Regions from separate parts of the Homo sapiens genome. Here region 2 is linked to region 1. Evidence: fine-mapped expression QTL. A gene starts in region 1. The other region holds a variant in brackets. All regions are shown on one strand. Distances are between the middles of the regions.

What was found. PIP is the estimated chance that this variant, and not a neighbour inherited with it, causes the effect. A credible set is the group of variants that fine-mapping cannot tell apart.
Region 2: its variant is the best candidate, but not a certain one, in a credible set for the expression of PCARE in skeletal muscle (GTEx, PIP 0.56).

Annotation. Positions count from the first base shown.
Region 1 is chr2:29,069,812-29,079,406 of GRCh38, forward strand. It overlaps PCARE (photoreceptor cilium actin regulator), which reads right to left and starts at 4,712. Exons shown (of 2, transcript NM_001029883.3): 1 at 783-4,712. The coding sequence starts at 4,450.
Region 2 is chr2:29,047,945-29,057,283 of GRCh38, forward strand. It overlaps TOGARAM2 (TOG array regulator of axonemal microtubules 2), which reads left to right. Exons shown (of 20, transcript NM_199280.4): 20 at 3,812-4,286. The coding sequence ends at 4,149. Among named protein-coding and RNA genes, the nearest start is that of PCARE, 22 kb to the right of the region's middle. RefSeq lists an enhancer at 5,011-5,521. The variant T/C (reference allele first, on the strand shown) is at 4,508.

The sequences.
Region 1 (9,595 bases):
GTAAACATTGATAGATATAGCCTCCACACGCAAAGGCTCTTTTGGGCTCTTAATAACTTTAAAGGGTTTAAAGCCATCCTGGGACCAAATAGCTTGAGAACCTCCCAACTAGATGCTGGTCTCCTGCGGGGAACCAGAAACATGGGGAGCCAGGCTGCTGGTTTGAGACACGGCACCAGTGAGCCAGCCACAGGGGCAAGCCTTTTCATCTCAGTTTCCCCAGCTGTAAAACATGGGGTGTGTGGGGTTGAACTAACTTGAGTGTTTTGAACTTTACTATTTTATTTTTTTGAGATATATATATATATTTTTAAGTTCTGGGATACATGTGCAGAACGTGCAGGTTTGTTACATAGATATATTTGTTTCATGGTGGTTTCCTGCACCTATCAACCCATCATCCAGGTTTTAAGCCCCGCATGCATTAGGTATTTGTCCTAAGGCTCTCCCTCCCCTTGTTCCCTACCCTCCAACAGGCCCCGGTGTGTGCCCTTCCTGTGTCCATGTGTTCTCATTTGAACTTGATTTTTTTTAATACAGCAGGGCCTCTTTTCAATTAAAATATTTCCTAGGCAGCTGGAATGTGTAACAGATAAGAGCACAGTAACTCAAGGTTGGAGAGTGGGGGAGCTGGAACTGCCCCCTACACCTTTTTCCCAACTGCCTCTTCTCTTGGAGCACAGTTTGAAAACTACTGAGACCCAGAAGATCTTTTGGCCCATTCGCTCTGTTCCTCTCTAGTCCAAGCCGCTGAAGGGCAGTGACCCCAGGACACTCCTTACCTGTTCTGGCCGAGCTGGGATTCATAAGAGGTGCTGGTGGGGTCCAAGGTGGGAGGCTGCGGTCGGCCACCTGGCTGGCGGTCAGAAGCTGTCCTCCTGAGGAAAGGCAGAGGGTTGAGGGCACACAGAGCTGCTCTCCGCTGCGAGTCTGCTCTCAGCCAAGGCCCTGAGCTGTTCTTCCAGCATTCTGCTGGGTTCCCGAGAGGGCCCCCAGCCTCTGGCGGCAGCGATGGTGGGGTCAGTGGGTGGGCTGTTGAGAGTGGCGGTTTAGCTTCAAACAGAGAGGAGGTAGCTGGGCAGAATATGGAATGTGTGTTCCCAGACACTTTGGCTATGACTGCTTGGCTGTCTTCAGAGTCTCTTGTTTCCTTGTGCTCCTGAGAAGGGGACATTGGGGGTGATGGGGAGGGAATCGAGAAAGGGGGGCTTGCTTCTGGGTGCTGGGTTGGGGGGCTGGGGACCTTGCACTGAGCAGGTGCACTCTCGGGGGGAGGGTTGGGCAACTTGGGCTGGTGCGGTGGGGAAGTTCGCCGCTTTGTGGTGGGTGGGCTTAGCACCCTGGGGCTCACAGGTGGGCTGGGGGGCGTCTGCACAGCAGAGGGGCTTGGCTGGGCAGGTCTGTAAGAGGAGGGAAGGCTCCGGCGCCTCTTGTCTGCTTGAGGCACCCAGTGTGTCCTCGTGGGAGAGGCCTTTCTGCCCACAGGGGGGCTTCTCTCTCGGCTCTGCCTTGGTCTGGCCAGGCTGGACTCTGAGGTCCTGTTTTGTCCAGATGGAGGGCCGGAGTGGTGCCAGGCGATGGCCTTCCGGGGCTGCCTGTAGAGGCTGGTGGCCTTCTCTGCCTGACTCCAAGTCCCACCCTTCACCTCGGGGCTTTGGCTGGTGGCTGGTGGGCTGCTCAGGTCCAGGGCTGGCTTCCTGGGCTGGCAGCTGCTCCTGCCACTCCCTGGCCCTGTGCTGTGAGGCTTGGTCAGGCTGGCGGTGCTCTTGCTGGGCAGCAAGTCCAGGGGGCTCACAGAGGCCCTCAGCTTTGGGGAAGCCCATGTTCTCCTGGTGGGGCCAGCCTCTCCCGGCCCTGGCTCCTGGGTTTCCTTGGGGGAGTTCTCTGTGGACTTGCTGCTTTCTGGGGACTCCAGAGAAGCGAATGATTTGTCCATCAGAACTTCCATAGGCGGTGGAGGGAGGTGCTCGAGGTTCCCCTCCATTTCACAGCTGAGCTCCTCACTCTTGGCTGCTTCTGCTTTAGGCAGAGGGGGAAAGATAGGTGCTAAGGGCTTCCAGCCTATGCCCATTTTGAGAGATTCTCTGCCTGATGCTGGAGAAATTTGGGGCTTCGGATACAAAGGGGCAAGCCCTGTGTACTTGGGAAATCTGGGGGGCATGATGCAATTCCTGAGGCAGGGACTTGCCCCAGCGTCCTTAGAGTCCCCCAGCATCCTCAGACTCTCCGTGGGACTGAAAGTTTCAATAAGCTTCTTGACGGATGTTCTGGTGGGACAGCCTCTGACATTCCAGTCTGTGGCCTTGGCAGCCTCACTGACCTCTCCTGATGGGATGGCATTTGGAAGCTTCCCAGCTTTGCCTTGTTCGTCCTCAGGATGGGGATTGCATTTCTGCAAGATGCTCTTGTCCTGACTAGGCAAAATACTGAAGTTCTTGGTGAGGGATGCCTTGAGCCTGCTGGTGGTGTTGCTTGGACTGACCCTGCAGGTGCCATTGGGCCACACGGCGGCTGCTCTGGGCTGCAGAATTTGCTCCTGGCTCTGCCCCTGCCCTTTGGCACCCAGGGCATAAAATGCCTCCAGCTTCTGACTGAGGTCCCTCTGGACCCTTCGCAGCTCCTGAAAGGTGGGGTCCTCCACGTGACTCTGGAGACACGACTCTGACTGGGACCTCGTCTGCCTCTCAGGGGCCCTCCTGCTGCCACTTACCGTGCTAGGTCTTGGGGGGACCACTGTCCTCCCCTCCTCCTCCTCAGACCAGTCCTGGTGCCCACAGGGCACAGGGACAAACTTGATCCTTTCGCTGATTGACTCCTTCATCTTCAGAATCATTTCCTGGGCCTGGAGGCTCCTAAGCCTCCTGGTGCGGGCCTGAAATGGGCTTTCCCGGTCAGCAGGTGAAGATTGTGGCCTTGAATGTGGAGTTTTTTCCTGCCAGGCACACAGACTCATGCTGCTCATTTTGTCTTCCTCCTCCTCCTCTGGGCTGCTGTCCTCGCTGTCACTAAGAGATGAAGCGTCCATCGGCCTGGAGGTTTTGGAAAGGTGTGGTTCCACAGAGACCCCAATCCCAAAGGAATCACATGGGGTGCTTGTCCCCAGCTTCAAAGGTGGGGAGGTGATATTTTCTGGGCTTGTACTGGAGAGGCATGGGCTCCTTGCTTCGTCCTGTGCTCGTGGCTGAACCTTTGCCATAGGAGCCCCTGAGAGCAGGCAGTCCTGGGGTCTGCCTGAGCCCAAACAGAATGGACTTTGCTGCCAGGTGTGTCCTGACTGCCTGGCCTCTGTGTGGGGTGAAGTCACCGACTTCCATTCTTCGGGCTCTGGTGCAAGGTCCCAGCTGGTTTGCTTGCCCAGCTTGTCCACCGACTGCACGGACTCATTGTCAGCACCAATGCCACTGTCCTCAGAGCATAAGGGGAGACCCTGCACCCCAGGGTCGCCACAGCCACTCGCCAGGCTCTCTAGCTGCCTCAGAGCCCTCAGGAGGCGTTCATCCACATTCCTTTTTGTGCTCAGCTTATTTTCCAAGTGGGTTGCAGTGGAGTGGAGGTAGCTGCTGGAGCCCTCCAGGAAGCTGCCGGTGAGCGAGGCCACTGTGCCATTGAGCACCTGCAGCTTGCTGACTGTGTACTGTAGCAGCTGTTGCAGGAGATTTGGCTGCTCCTGGGGCTCTCTTTTCTTCAAAGGCCAAGCCAGATCCTCCCTGACTTCCTGCAGGAGCACTTCTCCATCCTTGGAGATCTCCCCCAACAGCTGGCTGATCTCCTCAAAGCACAGCAGCAAGAAGCTGACCATGGGCTGCAGCAGCTCCCGGGTCTGGGTGGCCTGATGGATGATGCACAGAATTGCTTCATATTTGGAGAGGCTGGAGTGTAGATAGGTGTAAGCCTGCTGGTGGGCCTTTACCAGAGGCTCCGGGAAGTCCACTTTGCCTTCAGGCTCATGAGCAGGGTGGATGGTTTGGTAGCAGTGGCTCTGTGTGCTTGACGTGTGACATTTTGCTGTCCTTTTCCATTTGGAAGTATCTTGGGTACTACTTTCCTCACTCTCATCTCCAGAAAAGTCTGCCCCTTGTGATCCATGGGAACCCTGTGTCTTGAACGGAATATCCTTAGCCATGTGGCTTTGTGATTTGTTCAGCTGGGATGAAGAGGTTTTGGTTCCTGGGATCAGTCCTTCCATATCTTTCCTTTTGCCTGAAGCAGGATCTCCCATGAGCTGACAAAGACCTTTAGCTGTGGTTTGGTTCCTCCTGGGACTTGGCTGCTCCTCTGCCAGGCCCTCCCCAGCGTCATAGCAGGTGGAGTTTTTAACCAGCAAAGGGATGGAACCTCTTTCACTTCCGCCCTGACATCCTGGCCGAATTGCTTTGGGCTTTTTCAAGAACTGAATGCCACTCTTTGCAACGCTGTTTACAAGGTCACTGTGTGAAGGTGTACACCCCATGATTTCAGCTTGTAGTCATCTTCCACCCACCTTCACAATTTTCCAAGAATCATATTTGAAATAGGAACAAAAGGCAATCTTACTAGTCCATCCAGGCAATTTTCAGGCCAGAATTCTTTGAAGTCCATGGTACAATATCCTAAACTTGGAACCAGCTTTCTTTATTTTCTTGGTCCAAATGTGAAGAGGGAGTGGTACCTGTCGTCCTGTTGTTGTTCTAAGTTTGGAACCCTCTGCTGTTAGTGAGCAGCGGGACAATTCTGAAGGCTCCCAGCCTGGTGGATTACGGGCCTGTGTTTTGCTCGCGTCCTGACAGATGTGGATAGCAAGTGCAGCTTAAGCCTATTAGGTTAATCATGCCCTAGCCAGTCAGCACTCACAGTGTGTTCTAATATAGAACTTCTCAGCATTTACTATCTTGGGAAGCGGATTATTTTTGCACGTGCTCATGCTTTTAATTCTGTTCAGACGCCTGCCATATGAAACCTAGAGAAATGAGCCATAATTGCAAAGGCTCTGGAAGAGATGCATTTGTGGAAGAGAAGAGAGGGCTCGTTGATTACAGGCCCTGGAAGAGAAGTGACCTTCACGGTTTAATAAGGGCAAACCAGCCAAGTGTGCTCCAATCTGCTGTTATCAAGAAGCCCCCAAAACACACAATAGATAATAATTGAAGTAATGCATTATTGTTTGTGTGGCTTATAAAAACCCCGGGACTCTAGTATAGAGAATGTCTCTAAATAAGATAGTGAATGAAGAAGGCAGGTTGCTTTTCCTTTGCATTAGAAAATTGAGTTAGGTAGCAGGAAAGCTATCCCCCCCAGTTTGGATGGGGACAGCAGGAAAAGTCACTGCCATGTAAAGCTCAAGGCTGGTCACTACGCTCAGGAAGGCAATGCTTTCATGGGAAGAGGCTTCTTATTCAAACTTCTTCATAGGAAAACAAGCTAAAAACTGGGCAGTGGAGAGCCATTTCATTATTAAGAGGAGAACTCAAGGGGAAGCCCATTTTTCTGCTCAAACTGAGCATGGGGCTCCTGCCTGTGGCTAAGGGTAGCAGCTGCCCATTTAAAACCTCCTTTTAAACTTTATTTGCTGTCAGTAAAATCTAGAACAACAGCTTGGCCTAGAAAGACTGGAGTTTGAATCCTGAGTCTTTCTCCTGTTAGTTGAGGAAACTTCTGATAGTTTTTAAGCTTTCCTGAGGCAGAGCTCATCTTTGAAATGAGGACCACGGTACTTACCTCACAGAGCCATTGTGAGGATTGTCAATTAATACTTGGTAAGTGCTTGACCCAAGGTAGGTACTCAAAAACATGCAGTTTCAGCCAGGTGTGGTGACTCAACGCCTATAAATCTCGGCACTTTGGAAGGTTGAGGCAGGCTTATCATTTGAGCTCAGGAGTTTGAGACCAGCCTGAGCAACATGGTGAGGCTGTCTCTACTAAAAATACAAAAAATTAGCTGGGGATGTTGGCACCCACCTGTAATCCCAGCTACTCCGGAGGCTGAGGTGGGAGAATCACCTGAGCCTAGGAAGTTGAGACTGCAGTGAGCTGTAATAGTGCTATTGCAAGCTGGCCTGGACTTTGGAAGTGAGACCCTGTCTTCAAAAAAAAAAAAAAAAAAAAAGTTTCTTACTCCTTTCCCCCTGGAAGCTAGGGCACTTATAATAATGAAAGTCATAAGAATTTCATTGGTTTGCGTTGGTTTATTCCTGAATGGTCTGGAAATAATTGCCTATGATGCACTTAGAGCCCTCTGAATCTGGTGTTCTTTTTGCCCCCCACCCCCACCCTGTGCTCAATCCACTGCTGCCTCAGGATTTTTCTAAGGCCTCATTGTTTAATTTCTCGGCTCTCAAACACAATGATTCCCACTGTCTGCAGGAGGGAGAGGGGCTTTTATTTAACCATTTCCTATTTTTGGGCATCTAGGTTGTTGCCAATTTCGAAATTTTCCAAATAGAAAAACATTGCATTGAGCATCTCTGAGCATCCCCCTGAAGTTGCTGAGATTGGAGTTGCTATTCTGGCTTTCCAGTCTTCATTTTTTCCCACTTCATACAACCAACGAAAACAACACCATGGGTGTCAGGATGTCTCCAAAACAGGCAGGACTTAGAGCTGCCTCTTGTACTAGCTGGAGACTGGCCACTGGGGCTGTGTGCAGCGCCTGCTGCCTATCACAGCCCGATGCCCCAGAGTGCATCATTAATAAACTTCCCCGATCTGTTTATTTGAAGCAGAACTCAGGCGAGACACAAAGCCGAATCAGTGCCTGCAGGCGAGCTGCGTTAGGCATCAAGACGTTGCTTCATTTGTCACAGTGCTGAGCTGGCCCAGTAAACAAGGGTGCCACGTGGGAAGGCTTTCTTTTCCCTTCGGGTCATCCATTTAACAGAGTGAAAAACTCATCTGGAGGATGCTTTATGTAAATTCTTCTTCTCTTGGGATTTGGGCCCCTGCTTGACTCATCTTTGTGAAAAACTTTTATCTAAGTGACTAAAATTATTTCCAAACCAATGATCAAAATCAAAGTGTTTGCCTGGAGGATTTGCTGTCAGATAGCTCTGTACCTTACACATGAGTTTCCTTGACTATTCCAAGTAATTTAGGAAGCTCTTTATTCATTGCTGTTCATTTTTCATTAAGACCAACTTTTGTCTTTCTTTATTTTAAATTGGATTTGCTTCAAATGAAAAAAATTATTTTGAGTGGGCATATAAAAGTACAACTATTTTGGAAAACTGTTATTTAAAAATATACCCTGTGACCCGTCAATTCCACTCCTAAGAATTTACCCAAGAATATTGAACATAAAGGTCTGCAAAGAGACTGCTATAAGAAAATTTATAGTTCTACTCATAATCGCCTCAAATTGGAAACAACCCAAATGTTTATCAATAGGGAAATAGATAAATTTGATATAATTGTACAATGGAATACTACCTAGCAATGAAAGGAACAAACTAATGAAACGTAACAACAGCATAAATTTTAAAATCATTATGATGAGTGAAAGAAGCTAGACATTAAATAGTGCAAGGTGAAACATTCCATTTTTATGGAGTTCGGGAACAGGCAAGTAATCCATAGTTATATTAAATAATTAGAAAAGTGGTGAATCTCTAGGAAGAGCTATCAACTGGTTGTGGACATGAAGGAATTTTTTTTAGGGTATTGGAAATGTTCCACATCTTGACCTAGGTGGTAGTTATATGGGTATATACTATATAGGCAAAAATTCCTTGAGTTGTACAATGAAGTTGCACACTCTATGTTGCACTTGCGTGTACACACACACACAGACACACACACATCTAACTAAAATGCGGTATTGTATGCTTTGCTTGGCGCCTAAGAGGGTCCTAGCTATAATGCTCTAGGTCTTGGAAAAGGGTCCCTCTATTAGTTGTCTGTTTTTGTATAACTACTCCAAAAATAAGGAGCTTGAGATAACATCTCACAGTTTGTGTGGGTCAGGAATTTGGGGGCAACTCAAAAGGATCTCTCATGAGTTTGCAGTCAAGATGTCAGCCGGGATTGCAGTCATCTGAAGGCTTGACTGGGGTTGGATGATTCTCTTCAAGATAGCTCATCTACATGGCTGTGATAGCTCACTCACATGAAGGCCTCCATTCCTTGCTGGCTGTTTGCAGGAGGCCTCAGTTACATGTCACATGGACCCCTCTGTAGGGCTGCTCGAGTGTTCTTACAACAGAACAGCTGGCTTCCCCCAGAGCAAGTTCTAATCCCAAAGGTCACCTTCACTTCCTCCATATTCTATTCTGTAGAAGCTGGTCACTGTGTAGAGTCTACATTCAAGGAGAGAAAAATTAGGCTCCACCTTCAAAAGGTCACTTGAAAAAAAAAGATCAGGCCATATCATAGCTCAAACCAATGCATCTAGTGTAACTATACTAAACATTAGTTTATAAGGTACTAGTCTTTCCCCTTTAGCATGTTAAATAAATTCCATGCCATTTTGTTTGATGTGGCCCTGAACTAATTGATCAGCAAAAGATGGTTCTAGTGTGACATCAGTTTTGAGCCAAGACTGAAAGTCATTTAAACAATCTAAGAAATGTTTTACCCCTCAAAGTCTATCAGCCTCACCAAAGGGGCTCTCCTGTACCTTAAAAGCCAAGAAAAATTTCCCACTAGTCAAGGCCTACCTAGGACATACCTGGTCCTCCATATCTGAAGGAGTGCTTTTTGCAACACAGTTCCTTGGTCTGGATGTGAGATGAACAGGTAACAGAGAGATAAGCACGCATCTATTGTGGTGAGCTGGCGGGGAAGGAGGCCATGTTTGTGTCCCACGCACTTCATTAGGCACTCACTTTACATTTATCTTTTCAGAAGCTGGCCTTCCTTGCTTTGCTTTGGAGGATCATTAAAAGAACCATTCTGGCTACTGTTATATACCTTAGAGCAATCCATCCAGAGTTGCTCGTGGGATACACAATTCTATCAGAAACCAACATGTGATATCCAGGTGTCTGCCCTAAGTAGCTTTTGATTTGGTGATGATAGTAGAAACACCTGCCTGTTTTTCTTGAATCTTAGTGTGCATGGCGTATGGTCTGGATCAGTCATCACACAGGTACATTGTACCTCTGGAGGTTGACTCTTTAAACCTTTAAGATGCCTCTAAGTATCCTCCAAAGCAAATTTCATGTACACAAGGTAGTGTATGTTTAGAATCAAAGTATCCTAAATGTACCACAAGCTTGAAAAACATTTATCTAGTTTTTTTGTATGATAGAAAGTGTTTTATTGAAATAGATTCAATTCTTACATATAAATTAGAGTTTTTTTTTTAAAGGGTAGGCTAACTTTTGTAACTAACAATCCCCAAATATCAGTGACTTGGCACAGTAAGAGTTATTATTGTTTATACAATGCCAGTGTAGGTGTTGGGACATTCTCTTAAACAGCCCTACTCCACATGGTGACTCAGGGATTTAAGCCCTTCCATCTTGGAACATGAACATCTTCAATACATGACTTACAGGGCGGAAAGGGAAGAGAGTATGGGGAAGGTAGGTCAGATCCTTGACTGTCTTTGCATGGAGTTGACACCCATCATTTCTGCTTACATTCTGATGGGCAGGACTTATCACATGGCCCTACTTAGATG
Region 2 (9,339 bases), 22 kb before region 1:
GCCTGGGTTTGGCTCTTGAGATAGTTCTCACTTTTCCCTGCTGTATTAGCCTGTTCTCATGCTGCTGATAAAGACATATCCGAGACTGGGTAATTTATAAAGAAAAAGAGGTTTAATGGACGAACAGTTCCATGTTGCTGGGGAGGCCTCACAATCATGCCACTCATCTTACATGGTGGCAAGGAAGACAGAATTTGTGCAGGAAAATTCCCCCTTATAACCTTTTAAAACCATCAGATCTCATGAGACTTACTATCACAAGAAGTACACCGGAAAGACCTGCCCCCATGATTCAATTACTTCCTACCGGCTCCCTCCCATGACACGTAGGAATTGTGGGAGCTACAATTCAAGATGAGATTTGGGTGGGGACACAGCCAAACTATATCACCCCCCATTAAAAGAATTGTGTTAAAATACACAACATAAAATGTACCACCTTAACCATTTTTAGTTGTACAGTTCAGTGGTAGTGTCCATGATTTTTGCAGTCATCTTCCGAACTGTTACCTTGCAAAACAGAAACTACGTCCCCATTAGGCACTAGCTCCCCATTCCTCCCTTCCCCAGTCCCTGGCAACCACCAACTACTTTCTGTCTCTACGATTTTGGCTATTCTAGGTATGTCATATAAATGGAACTGTACAGTTTGTCTTTTTGTGTCTGGCTTAATTCACACAGCAGAATGTCCTCAAGATTTATCCATGTTGTAGCGGGTGTCAGAATTTCCTTCCTTTTTTTTTTTTTTTTTTCAGAGAGATTCTCGTTCTGTCACCCAGGCTGGAGTGCAGTGATGAGATCTCAGCTCACTGCAACCTCTGTCTCCTAGGGTCAAGCCATTCTCATGCTTCAGGCTCCCAAGTAACTGGGATTACAGGCGCCCACCACAACACCCAGCTAATTTTTTTTTTTTTTTTTTTTTTTAGACAGAGTCTTGCTTTGTTGCCCAGGCTGGGGTGTAGTGGCGCGATCTCAGCTCACTGCTACCCCTGCCTCCCTGGTCCCGGTTCAAGCAATTCTCCTTCCTCAGCCTCCCAAGTAGCTGGGATTACAGTCACGCACCACTATGCCCAGCTAATTTTTGTATTTTTTTTTTTTTTTTAGTAGAGATGGGGTTTCTCCATGTTGGCCAGGCTGGTCTTGAACTCCTGACCTCGTGATCCACCCGCCTTGGCCTCCCAAAGTGCTGGGATTACAGGCGTGAGCCACTGCGCCTGGCCCGATTTTTGTAGTTTTAGTAGAGACAGGGTTTTGCCATGTTGGCCAGGCTGGTCTTGAACTCTTGACCTCAAGTGATCCACCCACCTGGGACCCCCACAGTGCTGGGATTATAGTCATGAACCACAGCACCTGGCCAGAATTCCCTTCCTTTTGAAGGCTGAAAAACATTCCATTAAATGTATATACCACATTTTGTTTATCCATTCCTCAATGGACACTGGGCTGCTTCTGCCTTTTGGCGATTGTGAAAAAGGTTGGTATAAACACGGGCATAGAAATCTCTGTGTTCTCACCTATTTTTGCATTCCATAGGGATTCAGGATACTTTTGAGTTATCGTTATTCAGTGTAGGCGGCTACTCAGGGTCATTCGTTTTCTTTTGGTTCCCTCTCACTGTCCCCCTTCTAGTTTCCCCTCATCTCCCACCCTGGGGCTGACAGGGACTGCTTTCTTGTCACCTGTTCTCTTCCTACTCAGCCTGTTTCAAGCACAAGGAATAGAACTCTCAACTCTTTCCAACCAGTGTACCTCTTTGCTCCACTTTAGAAAGCTCCTCCAAGCCCTTTACCCCAGGATCCTTTCCTGGGGAATGCTGGGGTGACCCAAAAGGTGCAGTCCTGCCCTTCCAGTTATCAGGACCACCTTCACCTCTGAGGATCCTGTGACCCTCGGAGGTTCCCTGCAAGAGCCCCAAGGGTGCAGCCTCAAAGCCAACATTCCTTGATAAATGTCACCAAGAGAGTGTCAGGCTGACCAGAGGGTGGCCCAGGGCATCTTCCCTGGTTCCTCCTTATTCCAGGCTGGCTTTGAAATCAGAGGGACCCGTGGGGCTCTAAGGGGAAGGTATCCTAGGGGATTAGATGATGTGGTCCTGATGAAGGAAGGACAAATTGCAGTTTCATGAAAAATAAAACAAGGTGGCTCACCTATGATCCCAGCACTTTGGGAGGTCAAGATGGGCAGATTGCTTAAGACCAGGAGTTCAAGACCAGCCTGGGTAACATAATGAGACCCCCATCTCTACAAAAAAAATTTTTAAAAAAATAACTGAGCGTGGAGGCGCATGCCTGTGGTCCCAGCTACTGGGGAGGCTGAGGCAGGAGAATTACTTGAGCCTAGGAGGTCGAGACTGCAGTGAACCGTGATCGTGCCACTCTACTCCAGCCTGGGTGACAGAGCAAGACACTGTCTCAATAAATAAATAAAACAAAAAATAAAGCTCCAGATCACCTCTGAAATATGGAATCCCTAGAAATTTGGGGACAGCATGCGGTAGAAAGAGTGTGGACTTTGGAGTCCAGGCAGATTAGGCCTTTGTCCTCTGCTTTGCCCTTTGCCTTGATTTGAGTCTTGCTTTCCTCCTCTGGAAAACGGACAAGCATCCTGCCTCTCAGGGGTGCTGTGAGCATGAAATGGAGCTGTGATGTGAAGCTCTGAGCCCTGGGCTCAGGCAGTTTCCAGGATATGGAAACTGTTTTCCACAGAATTCCCGGCCCACAGAATCAATAAAGCGCTGCTGTTAGTGTTGTTTGCCTGCCCCAGCACTTATCCTTCGGCTGGATGACAGGCAGAGCATGTGAATCGCAAAGCCAGCTTCGATAGTGCTAATGCGCTTAGGATAATGCGGCCACAGCTGAAGGCCTGAGCAGCCCCTCTGGGGACCCAGGAGAGCCCTTGATGTGGTTTTAATGTGGCCACAGCCCTGGCATTTACTCAGGTGATGAAGAGCTGGTTGGCAGATTCAGCTGGCTTCTGGGTTTTCCGGGGTTTAGAGAGGGTTGGGGGCCTTGGGAAACCAGATATGGGGGCTTATCACTGGAATGGTCTGTGCAGAGCTTGCTGGTTCACAAGCACGTTCATGCCTCTGCTGCTGGTCTCGTCCTGAGGTTTGGCATCCGGGCACCGGGGAGGCTGTGCTAGGCTTCTCCCCTGCCAGCTGTCTTGTCTGCCAGCATGCTTCATGTGAGAGGGTCTTGATTTCCCTCCCCAGTAGTTTTTCTCTGTATTTGTGTGGACTTCCATAGGTGGTGATGTGGATAAATGCAGTATTACTATAGTTACTATTTGTCACCTGCCTGCCTACAGGTAGGCACTTTATGTATATTATCGAATTTCTAACAATCTGGAGAGGTTGGTTCAGCATTTTTATCCTTACTTTATGGGTTTGGAAAAGGCTCAGAAAGGTCGGGTGGCTTCCTCATGCTGACACAGTTGATGGGGGCAGGATTGTAACCAGGCGTGCCTGCCTCTTTCCTGTTCCCTGGGCTGGAGGAACCATTATGATTGTCAGAGATTCTGCATATTTCTGCCTTTGCGTGCCCCTTTCTCCATAAAAAATATTTAAAAATTATAGTTTCTGACTGGTTGGTATAAGCACAGATATAAACCAGGTTGGACATATTCATATATTTTCTACTAATGTTAAAAGAAGCTAACACATTTTCATAGGCTGCTAAATGTGTCATGATCCTTAGTTGCTGTGCCTGCTGGGCTGCCAGCCCTTTGGGGGACAAAGTTGGTGTCCCAAGAGAGGGAAGTGGGAGAGGGAGAGAGTGCCTGGCTCAAGTGACTCTCCTTTTCTGCCTGACAGTGCTGGTGGCCTCAGTTTACCCCCGGAAGCCTCAAGCTGTAGAGCGGCATGTCCTTCCCATCCTCTGGCACTTCCTGAACACCGCCACCAGGAATGGCACCCTGCCTGGACCCAGCGGGAACATCCGCGGGGTGGTGTGCCGGCTGTCCAGGAGCCTCCAGGAGCACATGGGCTCCCGCCTGCTGGACTTTGCCGCCAGCCAGCCAAAGCACGTCCTCAAGACGCTCCAGGAACTCTTAGACTCAGAGTCCTTGGGAGGCAGCCGCAAGGCCACTGACAGAGGGGTGGCCCCTGACAGCAAGACAACTGGCAGCTCATACCCTTTTCAGCTGGATTAAAGATGGATCTGAAATGGGCAATTATTATTTATCTTATTTTTTTGATGGACTATTCTCCTGGTTACTTTCCCCCTTAGAGTTCCAGATGTACATGGTATATTTTGAAGTAGAAATAAAAGAATTACTTATTTTTCTAAGGTTTTATTATCTTGTACTTTTTTAATCACAGAGAATTTTCCAGTAACTAGGTTTGTGATGAACGAAATGAAATGTGACAGCAGCAAAACCAGTTGCAGACAATGTTGAGACAAAGAGTTAGGAAGAAAAAGGGTAGCACAGCCCTGCAAGCTGCAGCCCGCTCGAGACGATAGTTGCCCATCTGTGAGCTGCTGGGCAAGCCCTCCTGAAACCCGCAGCC[T/C]GAGTTGGTCATCGAATCCAGTCCATTTGTTATGGGCCTGATTGGAGGTGAGTGTAACAAACGTGTTCAGGGACATCGTGCTTCTGCCCTGCAAAAGCTGCAGCACGTGTCTGTTGGTCCTGTGGGAACCTTCTGATCGGCCCAGCTTATCAAAAGACAAGGGGAATTTGAGATTTGCATCACTAAAAGCCTTCTCTAGAAGTTGGAGTTCTGGCTAGTTCTGAAGAGGACTAGACAATGCTTTGCCATTGAAACACCCTAAATGGAGATGCATGTGGAGCGTAAAGTGCTACCAGTGTGCAGATGCTGCCGAGTCTCTGAAACTGCACAGGCTGCAATTGTGGGCCACATCACAAGGCTGGAGGGGCGAGTGGGCACAGCACGGGCCAGGACTTGTGGAAGCAGGGAAGGTGTTGGCCCCTGGGGGAACAGCCAGTGAAATGAAGTCCCGGCAGTGGAGAGGGAAGTCTGGGGCTCAGGCTCTGGACACTTTAGGTAGGAGTGGCTCTGCCTTGGCTGGGGCCAGTGGCAGGTTAACAACTGTGTGACCAGAAAGAGTTAGAGCTAAGGCCATGACCTCAAATGCACAGGCAAGGCAGGCCTGGTAAGGCAAAGGCTGAAGAGGCAGCATCCCAGCTCTTGCAGGGGAGCCCAGCCTGCAGCCACGTGCTGGGGCAGATCCAGACGACCGAGGCCCTGAGGGCCCAGCCTCATGCCAGCAAGTTTTCTGGCAGACACCCCCCTCCCCTGCCCTTCCCCAGTGGAACCTCTTTCCACTGTCATCTGCCCCCCAGGCCTAACATCCATTCCACATCCCTGTTCTGAGCCTCTCCTGGGGAGTCTGGCTCTGGAAAGCCCCGAATCTACTCACTTATGTATTTCCATACCCCACCAGGCTGAGGAAGCCACTTTCCCATCTTGCCTCTGTGGCAGGTGTAGTTAGTCCGGCCCCTCCTTACGCCCTGGGGTGAGGTTGGGCCTGCGAGTCATCCCGGGCCTTGGGCTTGTCATAGGCGGCTTAAGAGTGACTTTGGGTAATTCTAGCCCAGTGAGCTGCTTCTCACCTGATTGTGACCCCAGCAGGGGCTTCCCTGCGACCATCTAGCTCTTTGTTGATTCTGATTGAACCAGGTTAAAGGCCTGCTAGACAGGCAGCCATCCAAAAATGCCCAAGAGGCTGACAGTAAATGTTTTAAGTGTTGAACAATTTAATGAATTGCATTTGCCTGTCATCTGAGCAAATGTTTTTGGTTTGGTGAGGAGACTTGCATTTTCTGCTTTTATCCTAGAATGTATCAGAACATTTCAGGGTTTTTTAGATCCCTAGGAGGCCAGGGACGTAGAGTCTGGCAAGGATTTTGACGGCAGAAATGAAGCTTAGCAGTACTGTCCTGTCTTCCTGCCTTCCATGTGTGTTCTCACACAGGAAGCTTCCCATCCCATGGGCCTCCACCCACTCTCAGGGGCGGAGGCATTGAAAACAGCTGAAAACAGTGGAAAAGTGCAGAATACATCTTTGCACTGTTCTCTTTTCCCTCATTATTTCAGGTTTTATTAACCACACCTGTGGTGTGACGCTGCTGGGAGGCACTGGGTGGCTCTGGTGTACCTTGAGAAATTTCCATCTCCAAAGACTTCCTTACCTCATTACTTTTAAAATGAAGGGAAGACAGCATGTTGGTAACCTGGCCCTGGGCCTGTTGGGAATACCTGTGGGAATCTAATGGGACGGCCTGTCATGGGACATGAAGATTTTCCTAAGAGCTGGGGCTGGAGCTAAGCCCACACATACTTTGCTTGGTTCTGTGTGTGGCCAGGAACTCCACTTACATGAGATGCTCTTGGGGGTGGGAATACAGCCTCTAATGATGGAAGATTCTCTTTCTCTCAATCTCTCTCTCCATGTAACAAAAATGCAGGTGCAGTCACTCACTGCTTGCAGACTCCAGTGAACAAAAGGGAGGCCTGGTATAAAGAAACTGACTTTTTATTCCAAAGCTAGTTTAGGGGAAGAAGCTGCCTTGAAGGGTACTGTGTCGTTTTTGGAGCAGAAAGTGGGCACTTTTAAAGGGGCGGGGGGGGGGGTGCTGGCACGAATGGCATGCAGGAGAGGAAGCGGGCAGGTGGGGGAGTCCACATACTTGCTTTGATGACTTATGTAACGGGTGGTCAAGTTGGCATCTTCGTGGGCAGAACTAGGTTGTAAAGTGGCTGAAGCTCTCCGGGTGGGAGGGAGTTTCATAGTGGGCATATTTTGGGTTATTAATTGACTGTTGTGTCTCCAGGCAGTTTCCTGGTGGGTGCAAGTTCTGCTCTAGAGCTTCTAAGCACACAGTTAGATGAGCCTGCCCTGGAGGGAGTGTCTGGTAAAGGGGAGGTAAAAGGTTATAGTTGCATTTCTTTTATATATATGTTTATTTGTTTATTTATTTATTATACTTTAAGTTCTAGGGTACATGTGCACAACGTGCAGGTTTGTTACATATGTATACATGTGCCATGTTGGTGTGCTGCACCCTTAACTCGTCATTTACATTAGGTATATCTCCTAATGCTATCCCTCCCCCCTCCCCCACCCCACAACAGGCCCCGGTGTGTGATGTTCCCCTTCCTGCGTCCAAGTGTTCTCATTGCTCAATTCCCACCTATGAGTGAGAACATGCGGTGTTTGGTTTTTTGTCCTTGCGATAGTTTGCTGAGAATGATGGTTTCCCGCTTCATCCATGTCCCTACAAAGGACATGAACTCATCATTTTGTATGGCTGCATAATATTCCATGGTGTATATGTGCCACATTTTCTTAATCCAGTCTATCATTGTTGGACATTTGGGTTGGTTCCAAGTCTTTGCTATTGTGAGTAGTGCCGTATAGTTGCATTTCTAAAGGGCTAAGTAGGAAGTGGGGAACAAGGGGAAATGGGGAAAAGAGAAGAGAAATAATTTTAAAAACTCGTTTTCTTAGAAAAATGAGTGTACTCAGTTCAGAGTGAGACTCATAGACAGAAGACTTGTCTGAGAGCTGTAACTGCCAGGATTCCCTTTTACATCAAGGAGAATTTTTTTGAGATTTTAGGAAACTTTTCCTATAGGTCCCATTGTGGCAGGCCAGGTATCACTAATGCAGGCATCCATAACAACTGTTTCAATACTGACTGAGTGGTTAAGTTAAACATTAAAAGCTGAGAGAGCTGGTGGCCTTATACAAAGGCTGGAATGTAACAAAAGCCCACCAAGAGTTTGCCTAGGCCTTTGCTGGGCCTTGAAGCATGATGAGATAATGAAGGAATTCTTAGTGGGACCTGTTTAGGATTAAACAAGCTTTACTGGGTGTCTGAAGAAACTCCCCAGGCCTCCAAAAACAAGTTTATTGGAGGTCTGAAGGAACTCCCCAAACCTTCAGGATTTAGCAGGAGACAAGATAAGGGTAATCACCCCAGCACCTGGACCCATTTAGATTAAGTAAATCTATTGAGGCTCCAGAGGAAGGTCTTCAGGACTTAGATGTTAGCTACAGATTAAAAGAAATTAATCGCTTATGTCTTTAGATGAGTGCACACTTACACATAGACATGTAGCTTAGAAGATATGCAAGCTCTGGAAAACTTTGTAATTTGAGTTGGTCTGGCGATATTTTCCAGGCCTTCTCCCTGTAACCGGTTATGGAAATAAAAAACTCTCTTCCTCCCCAGTTCATCTGCATCTTGTTACTGGGCCACGAGAAATAGCAGCCCAACCCTCAGTTTGGTCCAGGAACAAAATCTCTCATCTTGTTTTCTCCTCCCTTTATTATCTCCTACCTGCTGAGATAATAAACGTTTCTACCCTCTCACTGTGCTTCGGAATCATCTGGCAAGACTTAAAAAATACTGAGGTCTACCCCCACCCCACAGGGATTTTGATTCACTTGGTCTGAGGTGAAGCCTAGGCAGCTGTATTTTTTTTTCTTTTAACTCCAGGTGATTCTAATGGCTGGGTGAATTCAAAAACCACAATAAAATATCAGATAAAAAAGGAAACTGGCCATGGCTTAGGCCCTGTGGGCTCCTGGCCTGCCAGCTCCCCTTACCTCACAGCCCTAGAGTATTCTGGGGTTGACGGTAGAAACTGAGTCCAGGCTCTGGAGTCAGGCCTGTGGCCTGCTGGCGTGTGGCTTGGGACCCATCTATCAACCTCTCTGATCTTTCCATATCAATCTAGTGTGTGGATGACATCAATGCCCACCTACACCTGGCTGTGGTGACGATGACTGAGAACATTCTCATAAAGCATTTAGCATAAGGCCACGAAAACAGGGAGCTGTTCTGCTTGGGGCCTGCCATTTCTCCAGCTGTCTTACCCTTTCTCCAGACGCCCTCAGAACCATCCCTCCCCCCAGAGAAGAAAACCCAGAAGCTCTTCTCTCCTTGTGGCTGTTCCTTCCCCTCCACTCTTCTGACTCTTGAGACTGGAGAGGGGATGATTTGCAGGGGAGCAGAGTGCTTTCTTGCCTAAAGCATTTTCCTCTTATTATAACTTGGTTCTGCCATTAGGAAAAGAAAGGGGGAAATGACCATAAGTCTCCTGCTCTCCTTGTGATGGAGGGAGGAAGATGGGGGCCCAGAAAGGGAAGCCGAGAGGAAGAGCCAACCTCCTCATTAAATTCTGCAGTGTTCCAGGTCTGCCATTCTTCTTGACATCTTATAAGGAAGATATTATTTCTTCCATTTCCTGATGAGGAAACTGGGCCTCAGCGATGCTTAATGAATAACCGCAGCCAGTGCACAGGAATCACCTGGGAATCTTGGTAAAGTTCAGATTCTGCTTCAGCAGGTCTGGGTGGGGCCTGAGAGTCT